4 linked regions of the Homo sapiens genome follow. The protein of the gene in region 4 purifies or fractionates together with the protein of the main gene of each other region. This does not show direct contact. Each region holds a gene or a part of one and is shown on either strand. Other genes may lie near its edges. The genes, in order: SHQ1, NAF1, DCAF4 and NOP10.

What was found.
Region 1: the proteins of NOP10 (region 4) and SHQ1 purify together in Homo sapiens (co-immunoprecipitation; 2 studies listed by BioGRID and IntAct, with this or other methods). This does not show direct contact.
Region 2: the proteins of NOP10 (region 4) and NAF1 purify together in Homo sapiens (co-immunoprecipitation; 6 studies listed by BioGRID and IntAct, with this or other methods). This does not show direct contact.
Region 3: the proteins of NOP10 (region 4) and DCAF4 purify together in Homo sapiens (co-immunoprecipitation; 2 studies listed by BioGRID and IntAct, with this or other methods). This does not show direct contact.

The regions. Positions count from the first base shown.
Region 1 is NC_000003.12:72,838,204-72,845,735, reverse strand, and holds part of SHQ1 (protein SHQ1 homolog), read left to right. Parts: intron 1-1,312; coding exon 1,313-1,377; intron 1,378-3,333; coding exon 3,334-3,456; intron 3,457-4,536; coding exon 4,537-4,691; intron 4,692-7,532. UniProt on the Homo sapiens protein: Required for the quantitative accumulation of H/ACA ribonucleoproteins (RNPs), including telomerase, probably through the stabilization of DKC1, from the time of its synthesis until its association with NOP10, NHP2, and NAF1 at the nascent H/ACA RNA.
Region 2 is NC_000004.12:163,135,560-163,143,091, reverse strand, and holds part of NAF1 (H/ACA ribonucleoprotein complex non-core subunit NAF1), read left to right. Parts: intron 1-2,708; coding exon 2,709-2,869; intron 2,870-5,841; coding exon 5,842-5,893; intron 5,894-7,532. UniProt on the Homo sapiens protein: RNA-binding protein required for the maturation of box H/ACA snoRNPs complex and ribosome biogenesis.
Region 3 is NC_000014.9:72,921,144-72,929,636, forward strand, and holds the start of DCAF4 (DDB1- and CUL4-associated factor 4), read left to right. Parts: upstream 1-5,320; 5' UTR 5,321-5,400; intron 5,401-5,627; exon of another isoform or gene 5,628-5,786; intron 5,787-8,421; exon of another isoform or gene 8,422-8,493. UniProt on the Homo sapiens protein: May function as a substrate receptor for CUL4-DDB1 E3 ubiquitin-protein ligase complex.
Region 4 is NC_000015.10:34,340,960-34,348,225, reverse strand, and holds NOP10 (H/ACA ribonucleoprotein complex subunit 3), read left to right. Parts: upstream 1-5,089; 5' UTR 5,090-5,152; coding exon 5,153-5,206; intron 5,207-6,117; coding exon 6,118-6,258; 3' UTR 6,259-6,507; downstream 6,508-7,266. Other genes in the region: NUTM1 (NUT family member 1), read right to left, coding at 1-257, 2,191-2,284, 4,524-4,529. UniProt on the Homo sapiens protein: Required for ribosome biogenesis and telomere maintenance. Part of the H/ACA small nucleolar ribonucleoprotein (H/ACA snoRNP) complex, which catalyzes pseudouridylation of rRNA.

The sequences.
Region 1 (7,532 bases), on a different chromosome or scaffold from region 4:
GGCCATGGGAAGAAAGGAAGCTCAAATTTCAAGTTTGGAATGATATGGAGTGGGCCTGATATGCCCTTCTGATAAGTTTAAATTATCTAGGCAACATGAGGCAGCCATAGACACTTTTTAAAATAGAAAAGTGACAATTAGATTCCTGTTTTAGAAAAATTATTTTGGAGCCTCAGTGGAAGACTGATTGAACTAGGGTAAAACTGGAAGCAGGGAAATCACTTCATTTCTTTTTTCTTTTTTTTTTTTTGGACACAGAATCTCACTCTGTTGCCCAGGCTGGAGTGCAGTGGCAAATGATCTCGGCTCACTGCAACCTCCCCTTCCTGGGTTCAAGTGATTCTTCTGCCTCAGCCTCCTGACTGGCTGGGGTTACAGGTGTGCACCACTATGCCTGGCTAATTTTGTATTTTTAGTAGATATAGGGTTTCTCCATTTTGGCCATGTTGGTCTTGAACTCCTGACCTAAGGTGATCGACCCACCTCGGCCTCCCAAAGTGCTAGGATTACAGGCGTAAGCCACCACGCCCAGCCAATCACTTCATTTCTTTTAGTACAAAAGAGGGGTAAATCCCTACATAATAATGATGAGATTTGACACTTTTGCTTTCTGCTTTTTTTTTAAAGTAGTAATTTGCCTGATAAAATCAATTGGTTTTGTGTTTCTTTATTGTTTCCCATTGAGTATCCCTTATCTGTACAGATTGAGTGTCCCTTATATGAAATTTCAGATTTTCTAGAGTTTTGGAATATTTTTGCATACATAATGAGATATCTTGAGGATGGAACTCAAGTTTAAACACAAAATTTATTTGTTTTATATACACCTTATACATATAGCCAGAAGATAGTTTTATGTAATTTTTTAATACTTTTGTGTATGCAGCCAAGTTTTGACTGCTTTTTGACTGTGACTCATCACATGAGGTCAAGTGTGGAGTTTTCCACTTTGTGGTGTCATGTTGGTGCTCAAAAAGTTTCAGATTTTGGAGCATTTCAGATTTTCAGATTAGGGATACTCAACTTGTGTTATAACAATAGTGATAACTACTATTTATTATGGCTTTTCTTTTTCAGTATCTATTTTGTTGGTGACTAGGGGTATTCAAATAGAAAGATGAGTCATCTCTAATTTCTACTTTCTTGGTTGGGGAAAGAATCTAACTTAGTTTATTAAAATGTGAAAGAAATACTGAGGAACTTCTTAAAAAATGATTGATATATTTTGATGGTTAAATGTTTGCAAGTATTGATGGCCACTTATGTTACGTTATAATTTAAGGACTTCATGAGACCTGTGTTAAATCTGCAGATTAACCCTTCCTGGAAGAATTGTAGAAAATGGAAGTGAGCAAGGGTCCTATGATGCAGATAAAGGTATTGTCTTTGGAATTTTTGTTAGTTTATTTCTTGGGATTTTTCACATTATTTACATAATAATCTTACAAGATACCATGGGGACCTTTTGATGTCTTTCAAATACAATCTGTTCCTATCACTCTTTCTTGTTTCTTAGTGTCCAGTGCCTGTTATTGATGTTCCCCACCCCTCACAAGTCTTTTAAAGTATTTCACAATGTTCTTCAAAGTAAAGTTAACTGCTCCGGTTCTATTTCCTAGAGTACTTCCCCTACATTTAGTAGACATTTAAAAGTAAAAATTAGAACATGTGAAATGATTGATCATAAAAAATGTAGATGACTTATGAGCTTATGAATGGAATCTTTCTGGTATAATTTTCAAACTTGAACTTTAATAACAGGTAGGTGAGAGAGAAACTATGCATGGGTGGCATTTAAAGGCTAATTGAATTTTCTCCTCATGATTGATAAGCCCTTCATTTCAGCTAGCCATGAACCCATTTATTTTTCCTTTATAGAAGCCACTGGCTTCCTTTGTCATCGGATTTAGAACACCTTGTGTAGTCTTGTGTACTTTATTCAATGAATATTGACCTCAGTGAACTAGGCTAAGGGTAGGGTATGGGGGGGTGGGTTAAATGACAGAGATCTAACCCATAATGCAGTGTAATTAATGTGTAATGAAGTATAGTGAAACTGCCTTCCTAGGTAGTAAACCAGCTTTTAGTTATAGGTAAGTTGCATATTGAAACAAAATTATTAAATTTTTAAAGTACACAGGAGTTAAGGAAGATTGTGTATGCGGAGATATTTGGGCTGAGTTGTATTTGATATGTTGGAATTCAGTTCAGTACACTGAAAGAGGCAAAATGTTTTAAAATGTCAAAGTGCTAAATAATGTAGTAAGTTCCCAGGGAAGCCTAAATAAGATAGATAAACTCAGTCAAGGAAAGAAAAGAAGTACATAGACTTTAGGGATTTGAGTCTGCCATAGACTTTAGGGATAGATCTCCTGACATGCCAGAAAACCTTATTAAGCCATAATTGTTGTATCTAAGATTCTGTGTATTTTTAAAACTGTTGCCATTCTCCATTGGATTAGGTATTCTGATTTTTTCCTCCTTTCCCAGAAGTCTAATTAGTAACTCCTGGTTAATTCTAAGCTATTACCTTCTTAGGCCATTGATTTTTATAAGTTTTAACTTGGATTTTTAATATTATCAGTAGGTAAAGGTCATACTGTATAAGACTAAAGTATTCTGTAGCTTTCACAGATAAATAATTTTTTTTTTTTTTTTTGAGACAGAATCTCGCTCTGTTGCCCAGGCTGGAGTGCAGTGGCGCGATCTCGGCTCACAGCAACCTCTTCCTCCTGGGTTCAAGCGATTATCCTGCCTCAGCCTCCCAAGTAGCTGGGACTACAGGTGCACATGCCACCACTCCCAGCTAATTTTTGTATTTTTTAGTAGAGATGGGGTTTCACCATGTTGGCCAGGATGGTGTTGATCTCTTGACCTCATGATCCGCCTGCCTCGGCCTCCCGAAGTGCTGGTATTACAGGCGTGAGCCACCTTACCCAGCCAGATTAATAATTTTTGATAGAAATGACAGCTTCTGAAAAACCCTTGTTAAGAACCTTTTTCTATCTTGACTTGTATTCACCAAATCTATGAGGGCATAGTTTTAGAGCCTGTAAAATAGAATTATGTTTTACCAAGACATGTATTTCTCAGATATATTTGTGAAGTCTTTGACTATTTTATTTATTTATTTTTTTCTTTTAATTAAAATGATTTTATTATTATTTTCTGTAGAGATGGGGTCTTGGTATGTTGCCCAGGCTGGTCTTGAACTCCTGGGCTAAAATGATCCTCCTGCCTCAGACTGCCAGAGTATTGGGATTACTGGTGTAAGCTATTGTGCCCAGCTTTTTAAATATTTTAATCTAAGCATAAAACAAATTTATCTTTAAGGAATTTTTACCATTCGCCTGCCCAAAGAAACCCCTGGCCAGCATTTTGAGGGGCTGAACATGTTAACTGCTCTTCTGGCACCAAGAAAATCCAGGACAGCAAAACCACTTGTGGAAGAAATAGGTATGTTTATTACAGTTGGGAGGAAATTAGGATAAATAGAAATATTTGGAATGCTGTGTATTTGTAGGGGAAATGGGATATAGTGAATAGGAAATTGAAGAAAATACTTCAGGTATAAGGTGATCATGTGAAACCATATGAAAATAGCTTCTTTGGTGATATAATTAAGACATTAAAAATCCTATTGAACCAGATCACTCACATTTTTGGACCAATTGAAACAACATTTTGTGGTTGGCAAAATATTAGCATCTTGAGCTAAGATCAGAAGTATACAGTTAAGTGAGTTACGTAAAACAGGGGTCCCCAACCCTCAGGTTGCAGACCAGTACTGATCCATGGCCCGTTAGGAACCTGGCTGCACAACAGGAGGTGAGCGGAGGGCCAGGAGTATTACTGCCTGAGCTCTGGCTCCTGTCAGATCAGATTAGATTCTCATAGGAGCATGAACTTACTGTGAACTGTGCCTGCGAAGGGTCTAGGTTGTGTGCTCCCTATGAGAATCTAAAGCCTGATGATCTGAGGTAGAACAGTTTCATCCCCCAAAACTATCTCTTTACCTCTTTGATCTGTGGAAAAGTTGTCTTCCACAAATCCGGTCTCTGGTGCCAAAAAGTTTGGGAACCACTGATGTAAAGTGAACACCACCTCTGTCAAGAAATGGAGCATTTCCAACACCCGAAGAATACCATCCTGTATTCTTCCATTACTTTGCCCTCTCTCCAGGGTAACCACTATCCTCTGTTTTGCCTGTTTTTACGTTGCATATGTAGATCATACAGTATGTGTTCTTTTTGTCTGGCTGCTTTCACTTAACATTATTTTTGTGAGATTTATTCATATTCTAGCTGAGATTCGTTTGCTTTCATTGCTCTGTAATATTCCATTGTATGAACATACCACATTTTTGGTTCTTTTTTTTTTTTTGCTGTCACGAATAGCGGAGCTATGAATATTCTTTTAGTACATTTGGTATATGTCTTTTGGTACATCTTTGTGGGCATTTTTTCCTATACTTTTTCTTCCCCTAGTTGTACTTAAATCCAATACTTAAAAAAAATTAAAATTTAACACATTCAGGTGCTTCTGAGATTCCTGAGGAAGTAGTTGACGATGAAGAGTTTGATTGGGAAATTGAGCAGACACCCTGTGAAGAGGTATCAGAAAGTGCTTTGAATCCGCAGTGCCACTATGGATTTGGAAACTTACGATCAGGAGTGTTGCAACGGTTACAGGTATGTTGTCTTTCTGAAAGATCTTGATCTATAGGGTTTTTCCATTTGGATATTTTAATTTCAGTTATGCTTACACTTGGTAGTTTTTAAAAATAATATTACAGGAGGTGATTGTATTTAAAGCACTTAGCACAGCTAAAGTACATAGATGTGCATTCCCTTCCATTTCATTGGCTGTTCTGCCTAACTGTACTGCTCTTACAGACACCCCGTGGCTTTCTTTTTTCTCCCCTTTATTCAGTATTCTAGACATGAAGTTTCCCAAGTACAAAGCAGAACTCCTCTCTCATACTTCCTGCAAAGCTTTATGTTTTATACTTCTGAAAAGTGAGATCATGTACTTACGGCATGATGTCTCTTCTTTTCTGTATATAAATGAAATAGAATGTTCCTGGCGAGAATGAGATTGTGTGTTTTGATCAAATTGTCTAATTCTTGGTGTATAGTAGGCACCATTTTCTATTCTCTTTTTTTTTTTTTTTTTGAGACGGAGTCTTACCCTGTCGCCAAGGCTGGAGTGCAGTGCAGTGGCACGATCTCGGCTGATGGCAGCCTCTGCCTCTAGGGTTCAAGCAATTCTTCTGCCTCAGCCTCCTGAGTAGCTGGGATTACAGGTGCCTACCACCACGCCTGGCTAGTTTTTGTATTTTTTGCGGAGATGGGGTTTTACCATGTTGGCCAGGATGGTCTCAAACTCAAGTGATTTGCCTGCCTTGGCCTCCCAAAGTTCTGGGATTATAGGCATGAGCCACTGTGACCAGCCTATTGTTTATTTATTCTTTTTTTTTTTTTTTTTTTTTTTAAGACAGAGTCTCACTTTGCTGGAGTGCAGTGGCACGATCTTGGCTCACTGCAACCTCTGCCTCCCGGGTCCAAGTGATTGTCCTGCCTCAGCCTCCCAAGTAGCTGGGATTACAGGCGCCCATCACCACGCCTGGCTAATTTTTCTATTTTTAGTAGAGATGGAGTTTTGCCATGTTGGCCAAATTAGCCGGATGTGGTGGTGCGTGTAATCCCAGCAGTTTGGGAGGCTGAGGCGGGTGGATCACGAGGTCAGGAGCTCGTGACCATCTTGGCTAACACGGTGAAACCCCATCTCTACTAAAAATACAAAAAATTAGCCAGGCATGGTGGCACCCACCTGTAGTCCCAGCTACTCAGGAGGCTGAGGCAGGAGAATCCCTTGAACCCGGGAAGCAGAGGTTGCAGTGAGCTGAGATCTCGCCACTGCACTCCAGCCTGGGCAACAGTGTGAGACTCTGTCTCAAAGAACAAACACAACAAAACAAAACCTGTTTAGAATGTGGTTTATTATCTTAAGACATATTTGAATTTACGAAGGAGAGGGAAAAGACCTGGGTTCTGGTCCCGCTCCTACCTCTGTTAAGATTTGGGATACCAGGCCAGTTATTTGACCACAAGTAAGTTTTGTCTCCTCTTTGGAAAGTGGAGATAAATTTGCCCACCTACTTTATAAGGCTGTCTTGAAAATTTAAAAAGATAATGCATGTGAAAACTCTTTGGAAAGTGTAGAATGCTGTAAAGACTCCTGCCTTTGAAAAATATAAAATGGTCTCAAAATTCCTTAAAGGGAACAACATTGAGATTTACTTAGGAGCAAATGCTGGTGAAATAGCCTTCCTTCTAAAAACTTAGGTGTTTTTCTGCTGAGTTGTGGTCTGCCCATATTCTCTGCTTGATCACAATCGCTGGTGATCTCAGAGGTAATTAGAGTAGAGTCAGTTTTGTCTGTAGCAGGAACTACAGTGAATGGCCCTCAATTGTTGGCCAAGAGATAGTTTGTGGTCAGGCTGTTTTGGGCTTGCCAATCTAACGCTGTACATGAATGATAATAAATGTCACACAGGCTAAGTATGGATTTTACATTTACATTAGAAGTGCTTCTTTGAGGCCAGGGATTTGTTACTTAATTGTTGCTTCTGTTTACGGAAAATCCTTTTGAAAGATTTCTGACAGGTTGCTGAGATGTTGTAGGAATGCCATAATGTGAGCCTAGAATGAGTGCCTTTTAGGTCAGAAATTCTTGTATCTTGAAAATGTTCACTTAATAATTTAGGTTTTTTTTTTTTTTTAAGCTGCTATACTTTCTTTTTGGATGTCTTAACTAATGTATCAAATACCTAGACATCTATTACTTAGGTTAAAAACATTAAACATTAACCAATATAGTTGACTCCTGTCTAATCCCTTTTTGTTTACATCCCTCTGTTTCCCATCAGAAATAAACCACTGTGGCTGGGTGCAGTGGCTCACACCTGTAATTCCAGCACTTTGGGAGGCTGAGGCAGGCGGGTCAGGAGTTTGAGACCAGTCTAGCCAACATGGCAAAACCCTGTCTCTACTTAAAAATACAAAAATTAGCTGAGCGTGGTGGCGCATGCCTGTAATCCCAGCCATTTTGGAGGCTGGCAGGAGAATCGCTTGAACCCAGGAGGCAGAGGTTGCAGGGAGCCGAGATTGCGCCACTGCACTCCATCCAGTCTGGGTGACAGAGTGAGACTACATCTCAAAAAAATAAAAAAGGAAATGAACCACTGAATTTAATGTTTATTATTCTAAGCTTTTAAAATGGCTTAATCATCTAAAATCATTAAACTCTTCTTCAAATTTTAATTGCAAGAGCATTGCTTTTCTAAACAATTTGAATGAATATTCCCTAATGTAGGGGAAAAACAACTGAGCATTTGGGAAAACTCTAAGGGTTTTATAACGTAAATAGTATACTACTTGTAGTACAGGTTTATAACCCCATATGTGCAATACTGGGATCACACAAAGTTCTGAAAACTAAAAGTTAAAATATTTAATTTGGTGGCAAAA
Region 2 (7,532 bases), on a different chromosome or scaffold from region 4:
AGTTTTAAAGATATAAAGAAAGCTGCTTGCCCACCTCATAGTAAAGGTCTCAGGTGCTACTTTTCCAAATTCAGTTTCTTATACTCTCCTTACAATCTATTACTTCCTTTGCTTTTATCTTGAATCAGGTAGTATGGAAGTTCCAGAATCCCCTAAGTTGGGTGGAATGACCAAGAAGGGATATGGGTGCCTCCTATGGAGCTGTATGAGGAGAAGTGGGCCGGCCTGAGCCTTGCTGTGTCTTAAGTTGCTCTTTACAGTTTAGCTCTCAGGTGTTAGTCAATCTAAACTCTACACTCAGAGGCTAATGGTTATTTAAAATATTGTTAAATTCCTCTTTTCTACTCTGGATTAGCCAAATTGCTTATGTGAACTTGGTCAAGTTTTCCTGTAACATACCTATTAGTATTGGCTCATGCCACATACTGTCTATTGTATGGCTTCCTGTTATCTACTGCCTGTGATGTTGTTTTACTTAAAACTTTATAATGATTTCATTATAGTTGTGGCTCATAAACACTTCAGAACCTAGGAACAGTCAACTAAAATACTATGCTTTGCTTTTGTCCAAGAATTTTGAATGTCACTTATATTTTAGTTCAAACCATACTGCACAGACCTGAAGTTGGCAAGGAATTTTTCCACTGAAATTGTTTTTCACACTTAGGAAATGGATTCATGCTATCTAGGAAACAAATCCCTGGGAAACAGTCTGTGTACCAGGTTGCAAACGATGATTATTTTACCTTGTATTAATGGATACACAGGAAACTTAAAAGATATTTTTAAATCTCTGACCAAATGAAGAATTGGGTTTGTGTATATGTGAGAGAATTAAACTTGTGAATTGTTTTTAAGACAATTTTAAGTGAAAGTAAGACTACAATAATATATGTCATGTAGGCCAGTAAGAGTGGTGCTGAGTGCACCTCTTCTGTCCTTCACAGTTCTTACTGGACGAGGTCTACTGGATTTATCTAAACCTTTTCAAAGCAGATGTCTTGCTATTTTCTTAAAGTTTTTTGCTTTTACACTTTTTTAAAGCTTTAAATTTGTGATGCTATTAGTGTTATTTCATAATACATTGGCATTTTAATAGTTTTTAATGTCACTACTTCTTTTTAGAGTACACATATCTTCAGAATGGTGGTGCCCTGATAGGTGAGCTGTTTTACGCCTTAATGAAAATTAATGAAAGATTCAGTGCTGTACTGAAATCATAAAATGTGAAGAGCATTTACTATCAAAAATCAAGAACTGAGGATGTGATAAAACAGCCATGTTCAATGCAGTTGGTATAAATTGGTCCAAGCTATTTAGAAAGCTATTTAGTAATTTCCATTAAAACTTTTATGCCTTAGTGTTAATTATCGTACTTTCAGCTTCAATACCTCCACTCCTTACAAATCAATTTTTAGGAAGTCTGAAGTATAGTGATTTATATATGTTTATCATGGCATCATGTATTATGTTGAACAAATTGGAAGCTGCCTAAATGTCCTACAATAAGAAAGAAGTTAAGTAAGTTGTCCTGAGTCTGTAAAGGGGTGTTTTATGATAGCTAAAATTATACTTACAAAGAATATAACATGGAACAACTTTAGGTTTTTAAAAGGGGGCAGTATACAAAACTACAGTATGGTCTTAAAGAAAAAAATAACGTATTATAGAAAAAAGACTGGAAAAATCTATACTGGCATTGATCATGGTCTTATCTCTATAATATACATATATTATCTCGCTTTTGTCCCCCAGGCTGTAGTGCGATGGCACAATCTCGGTTCACTGCAACCTCTGCCTCCTGGGTTGAAGTGATTCTCTTGCCTCAGCCCCTGAGTGGCTGGGATTACAGGTGCCTGCCACCACACCCGGCTAATTTTTGTATTTTTAGTAGAGACAGAGTTTCACTATGTTGGCCAGGCTGGTCTTGAACCCCTGACCTCAGGTGATCCGCCCGCCTCACCTCCTAAAGTGCTGGGATTACAGGCGTGAGCCACTGCGCCCAGCCAGAAAATATATTTTTTAATTCACGTATTTTGAGAAGAAAGTACAATTTGAAACCAAGAAGTTTCCTTTCATTATTCTTAAAACGTTTTCAGAAGTAAAATATGTGGTTCTGCTAAAAGCAGTTCTTTTAGTTAAATGTTAAAGGCTGCACCATCTTTGTGTTTTTTAAACATAAATAACTTCTACTTTATTAGTTGTTAAATTAGAAAAAGTCTGTAATTTTACAAAATTCCTAACACTGTGGAAACAGCAAAAGTGATTTAACTCCTATTGAAGTCAGAAGCTTGCTTTTATATTTCCCATCTGATGATTCCAAATGTATACAGTTTTCTCAAAAGTTACCAATTATAATCCTTTTCTGTGTACTTTACAAGTTAAATGAGCAATAATTTAAAAAAATCATAATTTGCATCGAGTTGGTACCATCAAAATGATTTGAATTTGGTGAGGAACAAACTTGTTACTATTGTTTCACATTCATAGAAGGGAAATCTGGAATGAGCGAGTGCATTTTAATCAATATATGAAGACTGAATATGTAAAAATGACATAAATATAACTAAAAAATTATTTTATTGCCCTAACACTGACAAAATTACCTTGTTCTGGCAATTATCAGTGGGATTTTTAAAAGAAAACACTGCTGACTTTTCAAATAGTTATTTTACATGTTAAAAGAGGCCTTTATGTTTCTATTACAGATATTCGAGATATTTGGACCTGTTGCACATCCATTTTATGTGTTACGGTTTAATTCTTCAGATCACATTGAGAGTAAAGGTATTAAAATAAAGGAGACTATGTATTTTGCTCCATCAATGAAAGATTTCACTCAATATATATTCACAGAAAAACTAAAACAGTAAGTACTTTACCGGCATGTTGTTCTTCACTTACCTAACGTTTATATTTTAAGAATAATTCTCAGTGATGTAATTTCTTACAGTTATATTGTGTGTGTCTTGCAAAGAGTTCATTTATCTTCCTAATAATATCTTTGAAGCCTACAATTTATTTTCAGATTTTGTACGTAGAATTCATATCTTTTGTAAAAAATGAGATGATCAGCCATTAAGAGCACATTTGAGCCATGTACACTTTCTGATTCTAGTTCAGTGTTTTTTCCATTATGTACATTCTTTAATGTACTTACTATTTTAGTATTAGTACTAATATTATTATCATTTCTTAATAACTTTTTTTTCAGTTAAGTAAAATTCTCTTTGGATTCTATTTAGGGGCCTTGCTCTTCAATAAAACTTTAAAATAGTTTTCAAGAGAAAAAAAATGAGTGTTATCTCTTTATTTTGCTTATAAATTTTAAGTTTGTAGAAGAGACAACTAACACGTGTCCCTGAAAAATTGTGTAGAAAGTTACGGTGTATGGAGTTGACCTAACCAACAAACCAGTGCTCTCCATTTTGTCTATCAATAATGCTAAGTGATTTCTGTGGCATGTGACCGCAATATTTTTTTATATTTGTGCTCCCATTGGTTGAATATTTTTCAAATGTTAGCTGTTGCCAGCTGTTAGTTGTAGAGCTGTTTGTATCAGCTAAACTTGTTATAATTATGTTATTTAATTTTTTATATCAGCAAATAGCATATGAATTTAAGATTTTTTTTTAATAAAAATAACTTGAATGCTTTCGAATGATGTAATGAATATGAGCCACTAAAAATATTTTCAAATTGGGAGTGGAAGAAAAGACTGCCAAAGACTGGGGGAAGGTTAAATCCAGAAAGACTTTGCACTCAGTTTGACACAGAAGTTCCTTTTAGTTCTAGCTCTTCTTTTATTGGAGACTTAAAACCTAGGCGATACATTTTTATAGATGTTGTTTTTGCAGGAAAACAAAGGAACTTTGGTCACTGAGTAACTTTGGTATTATGTCAAAGGTACCAACCCCAGTTGCATGGCATAAGAAGATTACTTATACCACTTACATGTTAAATCAAGTCTCAAGTCACCAAATTTCATTTATTTCAGAGATGAAAATTTTGATCCTGATAATTGATTTAACTCATGTTTAAGAATCTACATAAAGATCTGGAGGAATATTTTGCCTAAGTTATTCTTCACATTGCATAAGGTTATTTTCTTAAATAACACTGACAAGAAAGATGAATTAAATACACATAAAGTCTTCAAGATATTAATATGTTCTAAAATGCTTTAAATATTTAGCATTTCATCCTGCTTTGAATATAAAGATACTGCTGTGGATATGCCATATATTTAGCTTTTTAACAAATAGAGTATTTTAGCTTAAAACAGATAAATTTGAAGAGGTTTTCTGAAGATGGTTTTTAAATAGATTTTAGATAATAGACTCAGTCTTTGGTTTTGATTTGCAGTTCTTCTATTAAGAAGCAGTAGTAAATCAGTGAATTGGGAAATTAGACCTATATTGCAGAAACCTCCCTCTCCCAGGAAAACTGTTGTATTCTAGACCTCATTTTGGCATCTGTCATGGGAACTTGGTGGAGTACTTTGTCTTTGAGGTAGAGAAGTTCAGCTCCTTTCCAGCTTACTGTTCTCTAATGAGGCTATTTTGATCTTAGTTTCTCATGTACTTACTGTCTTGTTAAAAGTGCCTTTTGAAATGTTGCTTGATCTTTCCTTTAGTAGATTTTGATTTTTTGTAATAGACGCACTAGTTGGGGAATTTTTCCCATTTATGTCTGTGATTCCAGGCTAACAGCAGTCCAGATCATGAGATGTCATATGTGCAGAAAGGAATACCAGAGATATATTTAAGGCCCATGTGTGAAATGACAATTGAGGAAATGCTTTTTTCTTTTAAGTGATGGAAAAGCCATTGATAATGGCTCATATATAATGTCAAAGTTCCGAATCAAAAATTTAAAGCAAACTTAATAACTTTCATGTTGTGCCAGCAAACTGACATCTGTACATTGATTTTAATGGCCTTAATTCCTGGGAATCTCATTTATTTTTGAGATCTAGTTTAAAACAATAAGGACATCTAGTCCTAATACTTTGTAATATTTTACTTTGTGATATTTTAACATAATGGAATAACAAAATAGTAGCTGAAACTATGAAATTAACAAAATTAAAAAGATTAAAAATGAGCTTTCACAAATTATACTGCTCATAATAGATATCTGTACTTTTGTTGGATGTAAAGTGTAAAACTCTCCACCAAAAGTTGTTGATTTTCAGCTGCAATTACACATTTCACACATGCCAGTCATTATATTGTCCTTCAGAATCTTTAAAGCAGCTTCTCTTCCTCTTCCTCCAACTATTCATAGTTAGCCTTTGTTTGACCCTCACTGCTTTGAGAATCAGTGTTGGAATAAGCCTTGGTTACTCATAGAGGATTGCTGACATTCCTCAGGTAAACTGAGGAGAAAATAATTCATATTGATATCTCTGCCATTAAACCTGTAAAATCTGTGAAAAGGGAATGCCTCATAGTCATTTTTATGTCCTTCGCACATGGAACAACTTCTGATCTACAGTTGGCGTGAAATAAGCATTTTTTTTAAACTGAGTTTTGTGAAAACTGCAAATATTATGAAAACAAAAATCAAAAGAGCTGTCCATCTGCTTTCCACTGCACACCATAGCCTTGGCTTCTCATTCCAGTTCCCTAATCCTAATATTTCTACTTGCTCAACTTTTGTGTTTTTCTTAGGAGCTTCCCACATCTTTTGAAATAAGGTAAAAGACACATAACTGTATTGCAAAATTAAAGGTTGAACTCATGTCCTTTACTTTATTATTTTCTGTACTTTTAAGTTATGAGCACTTAATAGAATTGTGATGAATACTTTTTTGACTCCCATCCCCACCCCACTCAGGGATAAGGGATCAGATGCATCATGGAAGAATGATCAGGAACCACCACCAGAGGTAAGTATAAGTCTTTTTATGCAACATTTTATAAAGTAGGGCAGGACTTAATCTTATAAATTTTATCATTCTTGCTGTTAGGGAAGTCATTAATACTGGCTAGCAGCCATACTGCCTTATCCTGTCCTAGCGCATGTATTCTCTCACCGTCCTAGATGACTATTTCATACCTTTCAGTGAAAGGTTTTGATTGATCATTTAGGAAAAAAACTTTTTTCAGTTACATTTAGTTGTATTTTAATAATTATCACCTTATCATTTACATTGTAGTTTACTATTTTTGTCAACTTTGTTGATGTCTGATAAAGGCAGGCTGTCATTATTTTTTAAAAATTTAATTGAGTTTAGTAAATACACCATATGGGACATGAAGACATGGTGCTTTTAATAGCTGTCCTTCTTTTGGAAGTACAGAATCATTGGAAGCACAAGATCATTGGAAGCTACCTACCTCTCTACTTTTTACGATATAACTACCTTTCTAAAAAGAGACCTTGATTTTCTTTTTGTATCTATGTCAGCAAAACAATAGTTTTATGCCCCAAGGTGACTTGATAATCTAGTCTTCCTAGAGATGTGAAGTAAATTTAGGAATAATATGTAAATAAGTTAATGATTTAATAGGATTACTTGGTTAACATTCCATGAAAGTGTTTAAGCAGATTATCTTGAGGGGTTTTTTTTTTGAATTACAACAATGAATATATTCATTTCTTAAAAATAGCATGTATTTATACAGTATAAAATAAAAATGTATATAAATATTTTTATAAGTAAAAATTATACATGAGAGTTTTTAAAGCTTGCTCAGCAGTTCTTATGAAGTTTTCTCAGTATTACAGTTTTTTTTTTGTTTTTTTTTTTTTTAACAAATATAGACATGGGGGTCTCAGTGTGTTGCCCAGGCTGGTCTCAAGCTCTTGGCCTCAAGTGATTCTCCAGCCCTCAAGCAAGCTTCTGCCTTGGCTCCCCAAAGTGCTGGGATTACAGGCATGAGCCCCTTGCCCAGCCAGTATTACAGATTTTTGATACTTACCGATTTAACCTTGGCCATTTTAGATGTTTAAAGCAATCGTAAATCATGATCTGTGTTTCTAATTTTACTGAGGTATGAATCAGGTTTATGCCCACTTGGAGGGTTCTATACAGGTATGAATCACTTAACCAGTGAATGATCCTTGCTTAGTATCTGAATTGAAATGGAATTATGTTTTCTAATTAATGTTATGTATTTATGTGATTTCAGTTAAGGCTCTGAATATTCACTTAATGTTCTGAATTAAGTTTTAGAGTATCTATAGCATCTTATTACTGGAATTACATGTTTTAAACGTGTTTAGAGATTCATAAACATCTCAAATCATATTTCTTTTAAAATCCAGATATTCTTTTTTTCTTTTTTTGGGTAGGGGATGGAGTTTTGCTCTTTCTGCCCAGGCTGCAATGCAGTGGCACGGTCTCAGCTCACCGCAAACTCTGCCTCCGGGTTCAAGCAATTCTCCTGCCTCAGCCTCCTGAGTAGCTGAGATTACAGGCGCATGCCACCACGCCCAGCTAATTTTGTATTTTTATTAGAGACGGGGTTTCACAATGTTGTCCAGGCTAGTCTTGAACTCCTGACCTCCAGTAATCCACCCCT
Region 3 (8,493 bases), on a different chromosome or scaffold from region 4:
AACAAGTAAATAAAAATAATGAGAACCTCACTGCTGGAGAAGGAAGCTACAAATACAGAAAGGGAGAAAACTAGAATCAGCCCTATATGATGGATTGGAATTGGAGATACTGGTGTAAACTCATGGTTTTCAAGATAGGTGGGTAAACTGATAGATGTACAAATAAATATAGATGTCACAGTGAGTGTGGGAGTGTGTGAGTGTGTGTTCCCAACTGTAACCATGAAGAGTGCCTTGGAACAGGGATACCGTAATAGCAATAAGCACACTTAGCATTCAGGTCTTGGCTTCTAAATACCAATTTCTATGACATGGAGATTAAATTCAATTGAATTAAATTGAATGGAGCTGAAGATTAGGTGACAGTGGTATATCAATGTCAATTTTTCAGTTTTGATGGCTATGCTTTGGATACATAGGAGAATGCCTATGTCTGTAAGAAATACAAACTAAAAGTATTCCAGACTGATGACACATCAAGTCAGTGGTTACCCTCAGGAAAAGAAAAAGAAAAATTCTGTAGTTGGAAGTTTTCTATTAGTTTGTGATTGTTTTCAAAAACAATTTTCTTAAAATGTACTTACATTCCCAGCACCTAGAACAGATCTGGCATTCCAAGTGCTCAATAAATATTTGTTGAATTAATAACTGAAAGATATAAACAGTTAGAACAAACACATGCTTAGAAAAAACACATCCAAATATTAACAGTGGTTTTTTTGGAGGGATAGATTTATCACAGGTAATTTGGGTATTTTTTCACTTTGTGCTTTTCTGCTTCTCAAGTTTTCTTAGATTATTATGCATTATTAACTGTTATATTGGTCAGGCTGCTAACCAGCTAAGACTAGTATTTTAGAGGCAAAATCTTGTCCCCAGATTTATGGGTTTCAACATTTTGTGTATTAAGTTATTGGGACCAGATCCTTGGAAACTGCTTGTCTACCCAAGTACACAGAATACGAATATGATCAGTTAATTATTGAGACATGTAACTTCCTGATGTCTAGAATATTCTTGCCCATTACCCACGGCTCCCTCTTTTCCAAAATCATGATAATGGAGTCAGTCATCAGCAGTTTGGTGAATACGTAATCATACAAAGAGGTGTAGAGAATTTTGTTGGGTATTTCATTAGGTTAGCAAAGGAACTAGAGGCTAGGGCGCGATGGTTCACGCCTGTAATTCCAGCACTTTGGGAGGCCAAGGCGGGTGGATCACCTGAGGTCAGGAGTTCAAGACCAGCCTGACTAACATGGTGAAACTCTGGCTGTACTAAAAATACAAAAATTAGCTGGGCGTGGTGGCGGGAGCCTGTAATCCCAGCTATTCGGGAGGCTGAGGCAGGAGAATTACTTGAACCCAGCAAGCAGAGGTTGCAGTGAGCCGAGACGGCGCCATTGCACTCCAGCCTGGGCAACAGAGCAAGACTCCATCTCAAAAAAAAAAAAAAGGAAATGAACTAGGGAATTGTTCTATATCAAGATTTTCAGTGACCAGCCAGATGCAGTGGCTCACGCTTGTAATCCCAGCACTTTGGGAGGCTGAGGCGGGCGGATCACCTGAGTTTGGGAGTTCGAGACCAGCCTGACCAACATGGAGAAACCCCATCTCTACTAAAAACACAAAATTAGCCGGGCGTGGTGGCACATGCCTGTAGTCCCAGCTACTCGGGAGGCTGAGGCAGGAGAATCACTTGAACTCAGGAGGCGAAGGTTGCAGTGAGCCAAGATCATGCCATTGCACTCCAGCTTGGGCAACAAGAGCAAAACTCCATCTCAAAAAAAAAAAAGATTAAGATTTTCAGTGACCAAGACACTCACTTGGATACTACTGAAAAAACACTGAGAAATTCTGATGAAAATGATCCTTTTTCTAGGCCCTGGATGGACTGTTACCCCACAATGGGCATGTTAATTTAATTACATTTCTCTTGCATTGATTTTATTTTGGATTAGTCTCCATGATGTGATTTGACAGGCATCCTAGTTCCTGTGGCAACTTACGTACAAGTCACCTCTTAAAATAGCCAACTCCTGCTGGGTGCAGTGGTTCACGCCTGTAATTCCAATACTTCAGGAGGCTGAGGCAGGAGGATCACTTGAGCCCAGGAGTTTGAGACCAGGCTGGGCAATATAGTAAGACCCTATCTCTATAAGAAAAAAAAGTGTTTTTTTATTTTTTTTTTTTTTATTTTTGAGATGGAGTCTTGCTCTGTTGCCCAGGCTGAAGTGCAGTGGCACGATCTCTGCTCACTGAAAGCTCCGCCTCCTGGGTTCACGCCATTCTCCTGCCTCAGCCTCCCGAGTAGCTGGGACTACAGGCGCCCGCCACCACGCCTGGCTAATTTTTTGTATTTTTAGTAGAGATGGGGTTTCACCATGTTAGCCAGGATGGTCTCGATCTCCTGACCTCATGATCCACCCACCTCTCCCTCCCAAAGTGCTGGGATTACAGGCATGACCCACCACGCCCAGCCTGTTTTTTCTTTTTTTAAAAGGACAACTTCTGCAGTTGATTTAAACAAATGTTGATTTGTTTAAATTAACATTTAAATTTTATATTTTGGGGGATGGGAGGATGTGGGGATGGCTAATGGGTACAAAAACATAGTTTGAAAGAATGAATAAGATCTAGTATTTGAAGGCCGGGTGCAGTGGTTCACGCCTGTAATCCCAGCACTTTGGGAGGCCAAGGCGGGCAGATCACCTGAGGTCAGGATTTCAAGACCAGCCTGGCCAACATGGCAAAAGCCCATCTCTACTAAAAATACAAAAAATTAGCCAGGCATGGTGGAGGGCGCCTGTAATCTCAGCTACTTGGGAGGCTGAGGCAGGAGAATAGCTTGAACCTGGGAGGCAGAGGTTGCAGTGAGCCGAGATCACGCCACTGTACTCCAGCCTGGCAACAGAGTGAGACTCCATCTCAAAACAGACAAAAAATATATATATATTGTTTTAGTCTTTGCCATGTGCCAGATATTTTCCAACCTCTTTCTATAGATTCATTCCTTTTCATTACAACATTTGCCTTGGCTTCAAATTCTGGAGATGAAATGAAAAAATAATTTTTACTTTTGAAGGTAATATACACCATCTAGATACCATGCTACCTTTATAATCGCGGGTGCTTAACCAATGGGCGCTGTGCACCAAGTCCTGGGTGAGGTACTCCATCATCAGCGCTTACTCCTTACAACCTTTCTCAGTAGATGTCTTATCCTCATTCTAATCTGTGAAGAAACTGAGGTTGGAATGCCTCATGACTTGCCCAAGGCCCAGCAAGCTTCATTTGTTCACTGATTTGCAAACATTCTTTAATCTTTCATCTGTGTGTGTTGCAGGTCCCCGAGGTATATCTCATGCCCACGTCACTGTCCCCTCTGTGGACATTCAACAGAGCCTGCTGGCCGGCTGCCAGCCACTCATTGACTCAGCAAGCCCAAGCCAACTCCTCCTGCCACCTTCCTCAAGTGTCCCCTGGCTCTTCAGTGGAAAATCCAGCTTGACTCCTCCCCGAGAGTTAAGTCTGGCCGATTCTCCCTCTGAATTCTGCCTCCCATCTGTACCCCCCTTCCATCCTGGCTACCCCCACCCTGGTTTGGCCCTCACTACCTTTCACAAGGACTGTTGCTGCAATAAGTTCCTTAGGGGTCTCCCAGCTGACTTCCACAATCTTTTCTCCCCAACCCCCTACACGGTGATTTCCCAGAAGCACAGCTCTAGTCCTGTCACTTCCCAACTCTAGAACCCTCAGAGCCTCCCATTGTCTACTTTTTTTTTTCTTGAGACAGGGTCTCACTCTGTCACCCAGGCTGGAGTGCAATGGCGCTATCTCGGCTCACTGCAACCCCCGCCTCCCGGGTTCAAGCAATTCTCCTGCCTCAGCCTCCTGAGTAGCTGGGATTACAGGCGCCCGCCACCACGCCCGGCTAATTTTTTGTATTTTTAGTAGAGTTGGGGGTTTCGCCATGTTGGCCAGGCTGGTCTGGAACTCCTAGCCTCAAGTGATCCACCCGCCTCAACCTCCCAATGTGCTGGGATTTCAGGCGTGAGCCACTGCACCCGGCCTGACTACTCTTTCCCTGGCAATTGCTGCGTCACCAAGCCCCAACCCACCCTGCTGAGTTTTCCTTCCAAGACTCCCCTCCCATCCAGCCGGCTTGAACCGGCCTCCAGTCACGTTGTTTGTTCAGCTAGAATTTTTCTCTGCCTTCTCTTCAAGGCCGCTCAAGCTTCATGAAGCGGTTCTTTATTCTGACTATGCCCACTTCTCTCATTTCCCTCATCACCCGGCCCCGCTCCACATACTGCATTTATCTATAAACTCCTGAGAGCCAGGAGTTTAGCCTGAAATCCTAGCTTCCTGGTTAAGAGCTGAAATGCCTTCGCACGGCGTGCAATGGGTGAACCCCACCGCCTGCTTTCTAACGGGTCCAAGCCGCGGGCAGGGGCCTGTGTTACGGAGCCGCATGACACACCAGGCCTACTGCTGGACCCCAACAAGCCTAGCCTCTGTGAATCCAGCTGTCCTCACAAACTGTCTCTTCGGGACACAAGCCCATCAGAGGCTTCCGTTTTCCTTTCATAAGATCTCATAACCGTCAGCTGATACCTGGGACAGGCACAGCACACATAGGTCATTCTAGAAATATTGGTGGTCTGAACAAACTCTAAGCTGGAGAGGACATGAGAATGATAGATCCGATTCCTTCTCTCAACAGAAGAAATCAAGGCACAGAGAAGGGAAGAGACTCGCCCTAGGTCCCACAGCAAGCAGCAGTACTGGAGCCAACACGGAGGCCCCCCGGTTTCACGGTCAGGGCTCGCTACGCTACACCCTGAACGCAGACCCAGGGCAGCGGCCTCGGCCGCCTGAGGCCACTGCCGAAGACTTCGCCGCCAGTCGTAACATCACGTTACTTCTGTCCCTCGCCTCACAGACTCCTTCGCTCTTTCCACTACAGCGAGAGGACTTCTCCAGGGCCGCATCACCCTGCGGAGGGAGGAAGACACGGTCTCTCACGAAAGGGTCTCCAGACAGTTCCGCTGCTCCGGGAGCAGCCCCCGGCCCCGCCCCCGCGTGCGCCTGGCCCCACCCCCAAGCGCTCCATGACCAGCCTCCACGTGCATCCGCCCCAGACAGGCCAGGCCTGGGAGGAGCCGAAGCCCCACTCCCCGCCTTCTTCATGAGATCGTCCCTATTGACGTCGACAGACAGAAGCCGCGTCCAGTGAGAAGGAAAGAACGGCCGCTATAGCCCTATCGGCTGCTACAACACCAAAACGCATCCACCTAACTGGCTGACGCTACACCTTGGTCTTTCCGGGTCCTTGCACGCTTCGCTCCAACTCCTGCAGAGCTGAGCCGGAGGGGAATCCGGAAGGGACACGCTGAACAGGTAAGACTGTGCTGCCTGGGGTGCCTACTGGCATCGATTCGAGGGCTGCCGCGCTCCCGCTGCAGAGCTCGGGGTGGGAGACAGGCGCGGCGAGGAAGGCCAGGGAAAGGGGCGGGGAGGGGCGGGGAGGAGTGAGCACGTGGAACGCCGGCGCCACCGGGCCTAGGTGGCAGCTGGGCCGGCGCGCTCCGCCCGTTCTGGGGCGCGTGGGGCCCTCCGGCCGGATCAGTGCTGCAACCGTAAACACGCAGGGAGGGCACCCCGAGTGTCGCCGCTGAGGGCGTTTCTCTAAGCGCTTCTCTGAGACCTGCTGCTGAAGGCCCCACCCGACACCTGGCGGGGGCTGGGCTGCGGGCCTTGGGGCGGTGTCCCCTGTGAATGTTCAGGTCAGCATAACAGGTTAGGTGTGGTTGAAGCTTACGAAGTGGCCGGCTCTGTGCTGCCGGCTTCACAGGCGCTAACATTTGCCAGCGCTATGATGTCCTTGTCAGACGCAGAAAGGGGTGCAGTTTGGTTGTCCGTCGGGGTAGCGCACAACTAGCAAGTGATGGGGCCTGGGTTTGGCCCTCGCCTCCACTCTGAGTTGTGAGTTAGCGAGAAAGCCACGCCTCGTGGGCTCCCCGGGGGCTTCAGAAACCATGACGCCTTTCACCATGGTGTTCTACAGGCATTGTCTTGTGACTCCAGCAGCGCAGCCAGAAGCAAAGAAAACTGAGGGGACGGCTTCCTAGAGGAAACAATTCCAAAGTCCCAAACTCTGATTTTAAATAACGATGGAAATTAGAGTCGCGGTGGTGTTCTTTTTTTTTTTTTTTTTTTTTTTTTTTTGAGGCGGAGTCTCGCTGTCGCCCAGGCTGGAGTGCAGTGGCACGATCTCGACTCACTGCAGCCTCCGCCCCCGGGGTTCACGCCATTCTCCTGCCTCAGCTTCCCGCGTAGCTGGGGCTACAGGCGACCACCACCTCGCCCGGCTAATTTTTTGTATTTTTAGTAGAGACGGGGTTTCACCGTGTTAGCCAGGATGGTCTCGATCTCCTGACCTCGTGATCCGCCCGCCTCGGCCTCCCAAAGTGCTGGGATTACAGGCGTGAGCCACCGCGCCCGGCCTGAGGTGGTGTTCTGTGGGTAACCAGGCCTGGGGGTCCTACCAACAGAGGTGGAATCCCTGTTCCACCATTTAACTTACGCTGGGTGTGGTACCTAGTCCTGTAAGCCTGTTTCCTCATTTGTAAAATAGGATTGAAAATACCAACTCAGGGTGGGCGTTAGTACAAAGCTTGCGCCTGAAGTATTTCTTAAATAAGTGTTAAGAGAAAATTTTGTTGTTTTTTAAGTCAGCTGTCTAAAATGTTGTTTTACAGTGAACAACTCCTAACTGCTGGGATTATAGGCATGCACCACCACACCCGGCTAATTTTTAAATTATTTGTTAAGATGGGGCGGAGGGGTGTCTCACTATGTTGCCCAGGCTGGTCTTGAACTCCTGGGCTCAAGCTATCCTCCCACCTCAGCCTCCCAAAGTGCTGGGATTAGAGGCGTGAGCCACCGCCCTGGCCTGTAGAAGCTACTTTGTATTCAGCTTTACAGACCAGTGGCGTTAGCGTTTTGCACATTACAGCCCGCTAGTCTACAGAATCCCCCCACTTTTTTTTTTTTTTTTTTTTTTTGATACGGAATTTCACTATTGTTGCCCAGGCTGGAGCACAGTGGCGCGATCTCGGCTCACCGCAACCTCCGCCTCCCAGGTTTAAGGGATTCTCCTGCTTCAGCCTCCCGAGTAGCTGAGACTACGGGCGCACGCCACCGCGCCCGGCTAACTTTTTGTATTTTAGTAGAGACAGGTTTTCACCATGTTGGCCAGGATGGTCTCACATATCTGCCGACCTCGTGATCCGCCCGCCTCGGCCTCCCAAAGTGCTGGGATTACAGGCATGAGCCACCGCGCCCGGCCAGTCTACAGACTCTTACAAAATTCCCCTGTTGTTGGATATCTAGGATGTTTCTCACTTTAACTATTACAGCATGGTGTAGTAAACATCCTTTATATATATATATATATATATATATATATATAGTTCACATACCCTAAAATTAACTTTTTTAAAAGGGTTCAATCCAGTGGGTTTTTTTATTATTATATTGGCAAGATTGTGCAACCATCACCACTGTCTAATTCTGGAACATTCTCATCCACCCAAGAAGCAACCCCGCGGCCCCAGGGTGCCCCAGTCTCAGAGCCCCGGTTGTTGGGCTCCAGTCCAGGCCCCCTAACCATGTGCTAAACAAGATGGTGAGGCTCAGCCTGGAAACCAGAACAGCCCCGAGGCCCCCAAACTGGAGAGCCCCAAGGGGAGATGGAGCCCCTCCCCCATTCTGAGTTTTGGCCCCGTGCTAAGGCTGGACCGACCCCCTGTGCTGTCAAGCCTACCTCCCAGGGGAGGCGAGGCCAGCCCCGATGTGTGCGGGCTGCCATCCCCCACACTTGGCTCCGGGGCTGGTCGGTGTTGGGCGTCCCAGCACTGCGGGCGGCACGGACGCCCGGGGCTGCTCCCTACTGGGTGTAGCGCACCCCGCCCCCCACCCCGCCCGGCCTCCTCTGGGCCTGCGCCTTGGGCCTATTGAGGCCAGGCCTGGAATGGTGCCCTGGAAGCAGGAAAGAGCCTGTAATTCCGGAAGCTGCGGGCTCCCAAACCAGACACCATTTTGGAGACCGGTGCAAAAATGTGTGCCGCTTTTGTGTGGAAAACTGCTAGACTGTGAGAGAGAGCCGACCTCCTCATGCATGAACCTTTATAGAGGGTGGTCCACATATTCTGTGCACTACATACACATACGCTGGGCACATACTGGCTCTCTGTGTTAAATCTCAGATTTGCTGCCGCGCGTGGTGGCTCACGCCTGTCATCCCAACGCTGCGCCAAGGCAGGAGGATCGCTGGAGGCCAGAAATTCGAGACCAGCCTGGGCGGCAACAAAGCGAGACCCCGTCTCTACAAAAATATTTTTTATTTTTATTTTATTTTTCCGTCAAGCTGTTCTTTATTTCAGGAAGAGGGCAGGGGAGGGGGCTCAGTCTTTCTTGGCAGCGGCTTTC
Region 4 (7,266 bases):
TTTGACAATGACCTTGCCAGCCCCAGCCCCACTGAGGCAAGGGCCCCCATCCCCTGTCACCAACAGTGAGCTGGGGAAAGCAGAGAGCATCAGAGGGTTGTCTGGAGAGAATACTGAAGGCATGATGGGCTGTGGAGGTGGCTCCCTGGGTGGGTGGTCTGGTGGGTCAGAAGTTGGTGGGAGAAAGGGAAGTGCAGGGGATGGAGACGGGGCGGCACTAGGTTTCATGCTCATATCCGGTCCCGGCAATGCAGATGCTGTTGAGACAAAGAAAAAGAAGAAATGGAGTAGGAGAAAAGAAGACCAGAGTTAGCCATCTGAATTCCCCATTTTTTTATTTTTATTTTTATTTTTATTTTTATTTTTATTTTTTGAGATGGAGTCTCGCTCTGTCGCCCAGGCTGGAGTGCAGTGGCACAATCTCGGCTCACTGCAATCTCCGCCTCCTAGGTTCATGCCATTCTCCTGCCTCAGCCTCCTGTGTAGCTGGGACTACAGACGCCCACCACCACGCCCGGCTAACTTTTTGTATTTTTAATAGAGACGGGGTTTCACCGTGTTAGCCAGGTTGGTCTCGATCTCCTGACCTTGTGATCCGCCTGCTTCGGCCTCCCAAAGTGCTGGGATTACAGGTGAATTCCTCCTTTATTTTTAAATTTTTTTGTAGAGGCCGGGCACGGTGGTTCATATCTGTAATCCCAGCACTTTGGGAGGCCAAGGTGGAAGGATTGCTTGACTCCAGGAGTTTGAGACCAGCCTGGGCAACATGGCAAAACCCTGTCTCCATTAAAAATACGAAAATAAGCCAGGTGCGGTGGCATGCACCTGTAGTCCCAACTACTTGGGGGGCTGGGGTGGGAGGATCGCTTGAGCCCAAGAAGTTGAGGCTGCAGTGAGCTGAGATTGCGCCTCTGTGCTCCAGCCTCGGTGACAAAGGAAAACTCTGTCTCAAAAAAAAAAAAAGAAAAATTGTAGAGATGACGTCTCGCTATGTTGCCTAGGCTAGGCTCAGACTCCTGGCCTCAAGTGATCCTCCTGCCTCAGCCTTCCAAAGTGCAGAGATAACTGGTGTGAGCCACCACACCCCATCTGAGTTCTTCTTTAGACCCGAAGACTCAAAGCACTGATTCTCAACAGGTGAAAGAGGGGATATGGATGGGGAACTTGCATAGTTTGCAAATGTCCCCCAAGTGATTTTGATCTTACTTCTCGTTGAGAATGACTGCATTAAAGAAGTTGCTTCTTTTTCAACAAGACACACAGACCCCTATCTGCCAAGAAGAGACAAGCCCAAGCCATCACTGCCTCTAAGTGCTGCTTTTTTTTTTTTTTTTTTTTTTTTTTAGATGGAGTCTTGCTCTGTGGCCCATTCTGGAGTGCAGCAGCACGATCTTAGCTCACTGCAACCTCCGCCTCCTGGGTTCAAGTGATTCTCCTGCCTCAGCCCCGCAAGTAGCTGGGATTACAGGCACGAACCACCACATCCAGCTAATTTTTGTATTTTTAGGACATACGGGGTTTACGCCATGTTGGCCAGGCTGGTCTCAAAAACCTGACCTCAGGTAATCCACCCGCCTCGACCTCCTAAAGTGCTGGGATTACAGGCATGAGCCACCGCACCCGGCCCAAGCAGAGGCAGTTTATAATACATTCCAGCCTAGTTTTCAGGAAGGCATTTCTCTGCAACAGATAACTACAGATTATCTTTTCCCACTAAGGTCCTTCCCACCTTACCCTCCCATCCTCCATCCTCCACATCCCCTTCCCCTCATAAGCTCAAGCATGGCAAAATCCTAGAACAGGCTCCAGTTGCCTAAAAAAGACAGATGAACTTGGGCCTTCCCCCTTGAAACCTCTCTGTGCCAGTCCTAAGACACATACCCCTGATCCTCTCTCCCACCACAAAAACACATGCGGAAGTGTCCCCTGTTCAAGAGAATCAAGTTGCTAATTGCCATCCTTTCTCTATACTCAGCATGTGTCCTCAGAGACACCTTAATCTGTCCTTAAGGAAGTCCTCTTCCTTCCCCAGCCCCTAGTCTTAAAGGTACAATCTCCTTCCCTAGCCTCCCCAAGTGTGATACCTTTGACGGGGTGTAGCACCTCACATTCCTTTAGGTCAGCCCAGAGAGCTTGTCTCAAAGGATATGAGCAGGTACCAGAAATCCTCCTCACCACCTGCAGACTTACCTCCATCTGAAGCCATCCTCTCAGGTTTGGGCACTAACTGTGGCTGTCTGGAAGCCTCCAGAATGAGGCAGTCAGGTCCAGGACCCAGAGTAACCTGGCTCCAGTAGGTGCACAGGGATCCAAGGAAGGGAAGGTAAAGATCAGATCACACAGAACTAGAATACGGAACTCAAGGCATTCTGCTGTGGGGGAGGGGAGAGGGAAAAGTGGGGTGAGGGTGGGGACAGATATTCCATGAAGGGTTCTAGTAAGTATGAAAAAACCAGGAATTCCCTTCAAACTACAGTTTGGCAACACAATTGATGTTTGCCTCTTTAGGGCTATTTGTAAACTTTTTCTCAGATTCCCAACACATTACAGTTTTACCGTTTGGTTCACTACACTTCGATTCTTCACCAACATATCTCATTTTGTGTCCTTCCATCCCAGCCAGTTCTGTAACTGACTTCCTATTAACAGCAGGTTGACTGTAGACCCCTGACTTAATTCAATGATGGCTATATTTTCTGAACTAAATTCAGAGTACATTGGTCTATACACGTAAGGATCAAGGGAACTAAAGTTTAAAATTAGAATTGTCAGATGATCCAAGGTGCTCGATTGCTGTGTGCACATCATTTCCTTGGAAAGCTGTCCAATCTACTAACATAGGCTCTGTACTCCACAGACGCCTTACCCTTTGCTGAAAAGCCTCACTAAATAAAAAAGCTGCCATGCAGTTTAAAATTTCAAGAGTAGAAAGTCCTTCTTTTTGTTAAATTATTTTGGTTTAAACTTTAAAAATAAAATTTATCTGCTAAGGTTCCTGGCGACTATTTCAGGCCAGTAACTCCCAGAGCATCCTCTACAGCCACAGCTTCATCCAAACGTGGATTTCCCCCAAAAGGCCTTCCCTGGGGTTCATGGCATCTTTCTTGCTTCCTCTGAGATATCTTTTCTCTTTTCTAAAGACCTGAAGGCTAAAATCATCATTTTCCTTTCTAACAAAATTAACTACTTAGATTTAAATTTTTTTTTTTAAACAGAGTCTCGCTCTGTCACCCAGGCTGTAGTGCAGTGGCGTGATCTCTGCTCACTGCAAGCTCCGCCTTCCGGGTTCACGCCATTGTCCTGCCTCACCCTCCTGAGTAGCTGGGACTACAGGCACCCACCACCATGCCCGGCTAATTTTTTGTATTTTTAGTAGAGACGGGGTTTCACTGTGTTAGCCAGGATAGTCTCGATCTCCTGACCTCATGATCCGCCCGCCTCAGCCTCCCAAAGTGCTGGGATTACTAGGCGTGAGCCACCGTGCCCGGCCTTTAAAAAATTTTTAACAGGTAATAAATACATTAGCAAGGTTCAAAAATCAAACTGCGTAATAAAATACATAGCAATAAGTCTGCCTCCCAACCCTTACCCCTTTCTCCTGCAACTAAGTTCTCTATCCCAGAGGAAACCAGTATCATCTGTTTCTTGTGAATACTTGCAGAGATTTTTTATGCAACTACAAGTAAATACAAACCATATTCTTTTTTTTTTTTTTTTTTTTTTGAGACAGGATCTCGCTCTGTCGCCCAGGCTGGAGTGCAGTGGCGTGATCTTGGCTCACTGCAACCTCCGCCTCCTGGGTTCAAGTGATTCTCCTGCCTCAGCCTCCCGAGTAGCTGGGACTACAGGTGCCCGCCACCACGCCCCGCTAATTTTTGTATTTTTGGGGGTTTCACCATATTGGCCAGGCTGGTCTCGAACTCCTGACCTTGTGATCCACCCGTCTCAGCCTCCCAAAGTGCTGGGATTACAGGCGTGAGCCACCGCGCCCAGCCACAAACCATATTTTTTTTTCTTTAAGACGGACCCAGGCTGGAGTGCAGTGGTGCTATCTCAGCTCGCTGCAACCTCTGCCTCCCCGGCTCAAATGATTCTCCTGCCTCAGCCTCTGAAGTAGCTGGGACTACAGGCGCCCACCACCACGCCCGGCTAATTTTTCTGTATTTTTAGTAGAGACGGGGTTTCGCCAGATTGGCCAGGCTGGTCTCGAACCCTTGACCTGTGATCTGCCTGCCTCAGCCTCCCAGTGTTGGGATTACAGGCGTGAGCCACCGCGCCCCGCCAAACCATATTCTTAAAAAAAAAAAAAAAAAAGTGCAGGTTTTTCTGGTTACACAGTTAATATATATTCCAATGCTTTTGTCATTGTAAATAATGGCGTAACGATGATCTTTGTAATGATATTTTGGTTCTCATTTTCATTTCTTTAAACGAGAGTCTTATAAGGAGAACTTCTATATTCTTTTAAAAATTGTAAAAACTCCTAGAAGGTGCACTTTATTACGTTATTATTAGCTACTCACCACCATAAGAAAGAGCGCTGAATTTGCGGTAGGGACCTAACTTTAAATCTTGGTTCGACCGCTGAAACATGCTTCACCAGTTTCATAAAATAACTTTACGCTCTTTCGCTTTACGGAATATTGATACTCAACATGCATTCTTTACCGCCAACGCTTTGAAATGGAGCAGGGGAACTGGATGTAAAAGAGGGGAGGGAAGAAAACCTCTTCTTTCTTCCCTAGGGTAAAGGGGCTCTGAATCCTGGAGCCCTTGTTTCTTCAGGCATTGAAAACTCACTGCTCCTGAAATGGGTGTGTATCTTGAGACAAAGACAGGCTTCTATACGTCAATATTCTATCCACATCCATCCCTACCCCCCTCTAACGCCGTGTACCTAGCACACAGTAGGGACACTCCACGTGTTTTAGCCTGCAAAGTTGCAAGTAGGGCCCCAAGCCAAGCCCTGCTCTCGTGCGCCCCCTTCTGGCTAGCTGAAAACAAGGCAAAAATTGACTACATTTTCCGGAGTGCCAGGAGAGAGAGACTTCCGGTTATGCAGGAAGGAAATTGACGAACACGTGACGCGGTCGGGCGGACCACTGCAGACTGAGCGGTGGACCGAATTGGGACCGCTGGCTTATAAGCGATCATGTTTCTCCAGTATTACCTCAACGAGCAGGGAGATCGAGTCTATACGCTGAAGGTGAGGAGAGAAAACAGGGTGTAAATAGGCATGGCGAGAAATGTAGATGGGAGGAGTGGGTGAGGTCATACGTGGAGTTACCTAGCTGGGTGCGGGGAACCAGAAAGTCCAGAACCGAGGTGGGGAAGAACCGGGACCGCGCGACTCATTTTTTAATTAAAAGAAAAAATTCTGGCGGGGCGCAGTGGCTCCCGCCTGTAATCCTAGCACTTTGGGAGGCCGAGGCGGGTGGATTGCCTTAGCTCAGGAGTTCGCGACCATTCTGGGCAACACTGTGAAACTCCGTTTCTACTAAAATACAAAAAATTAGCCGGGCATGGCGGTGTGCGCCTGTTATCCCAGCTACTCGGGAGGCTGAGACAGGAGAATCGCTTAAACCCGGGAGGCAGAGGTTGCAGTGAGCCGGGATAGCGCCATTGCACTCACTTTTCCTTTTTTTTTTTTTTTTTTTTTTTAAAGACAGGGACTCGCTTTGTTGCCTAGGCTGTAGTGCGGTGGTGCGGTCTCGGCTCACTGCAACCTCCGCCTCCTGGGCTCAAACAATCCTTCTGCCTCAGCCTCCCGAGTAGTTGGGACTACAGGCGTGCGCCACCATACCCGGCTAATTTTTGGTTTTGGGGTTTTTTGTTTGGTTGGTTGGTTTTGTTTGTTTGTTTGTTGTAGAGACGAGGTTTCGCCATATTGCCCAGGCTGGTCTCAAACCATCCTCCCGCCTCGACCTCCCAAAGTGCCAGGATTACAGGCGTGAGCCACCGCGCTCGGCCTTTTTAAATTTTATATTTCTCTATTTATTTGTACAACTTTTTGAGTTGACCATTGCATCTTCTATTTTCATGTTTGCCCTTTTTCGCGCTGGCCCCACCCCATTTCATCACTCCTGTACTGACATACATTCTGTGTTCCTGGAGCAGAAATTTGACCCGATGGGACAACAGACCTGCTCAGCCCATCCTGCTCGGTTCTCCCCAGATGACAAATACTCTCGACACCGAATCACCATCAAGAAACGCTTCAAGGTGCTCATGACCCAGCAACCGCGCCCTGTCCTCTGAGGGTCCCTTAAACTGATGTCTTTTCTGCCACCTGTTACCCCTCGGAGACTCCGTAACCAAACTCTTCGGACTGTGAGCCCTGATGCCTTTTTGCCAGCCATACTCTTTGGCATCCAGTCTCTCGTGGCGATTGATTATGCTTGTGTGAGGCAATCATGGTGGCATCACCCATAAAGGGAACACATTTGACTTTTTTTTCTCATATTTTAAATTACTACAAGATTATTAAAGATAAAATGATTTGAAAAACTCTTATTTTGTGAGTTGTTGGAGGAAAGGATTGGCAGTATTTTTTTAAAGGGAGGGAGATGATAAAGGAGAGTACCCCAGAGAGTTGCAACAATACCACTTGGAAGAAAAACTTCAGTCCTGCTGTTGCAAGAGTGGTCATGTGCTGTTCATGATAGGAGGGTATTGGGGAAGAAAGATTAAGACTTTCACAGCTGTCAGCATTCACTGAAAAATACCTCTGTTGTCACTTAACGTAATTTCTTGTCCCTTGAAATAAGATTTTGATTAAAAATGGAAGAGTACTTGTAAAAGTAATAGGCATATTACAGACAGAGGTCAGTGAATTGAAAGTCAGAAGACCAGTATTTGCTTTTTGTATAACTTTGAGAAAGTTACTTAACCTGTTTAGTCTGATTTTTCTCCTGATTAACTTATCTTTGAACTCAAATTGATTTAGTGGTGGGCCTTTCTTTTTTTTTCTTTTGAGACAGAGTCTAGATCTGTTGTCCAGGCTGGAGTGCAGGGGTGCAGCCTTGGCTGACTACAACCTCCGTCTCCCAGGTTCAAGCAATTCTCCTGCCTCAGCTTCCCAAGTAACTGGGATTACAGGTGCACGCCACCACACCTGGCTAATTTTTGTATTTCTTTTAGTAGTGACAGGGTTTCGCCATGTCGGCCAAGCTGGTCTCAAACTCCTCACCTCAAGTGATCCACCCACCTCAGCCTCCCAAAGTGCTGGGATTACAGGCATGAGTCACCACACCTGGCCTGGGTCTT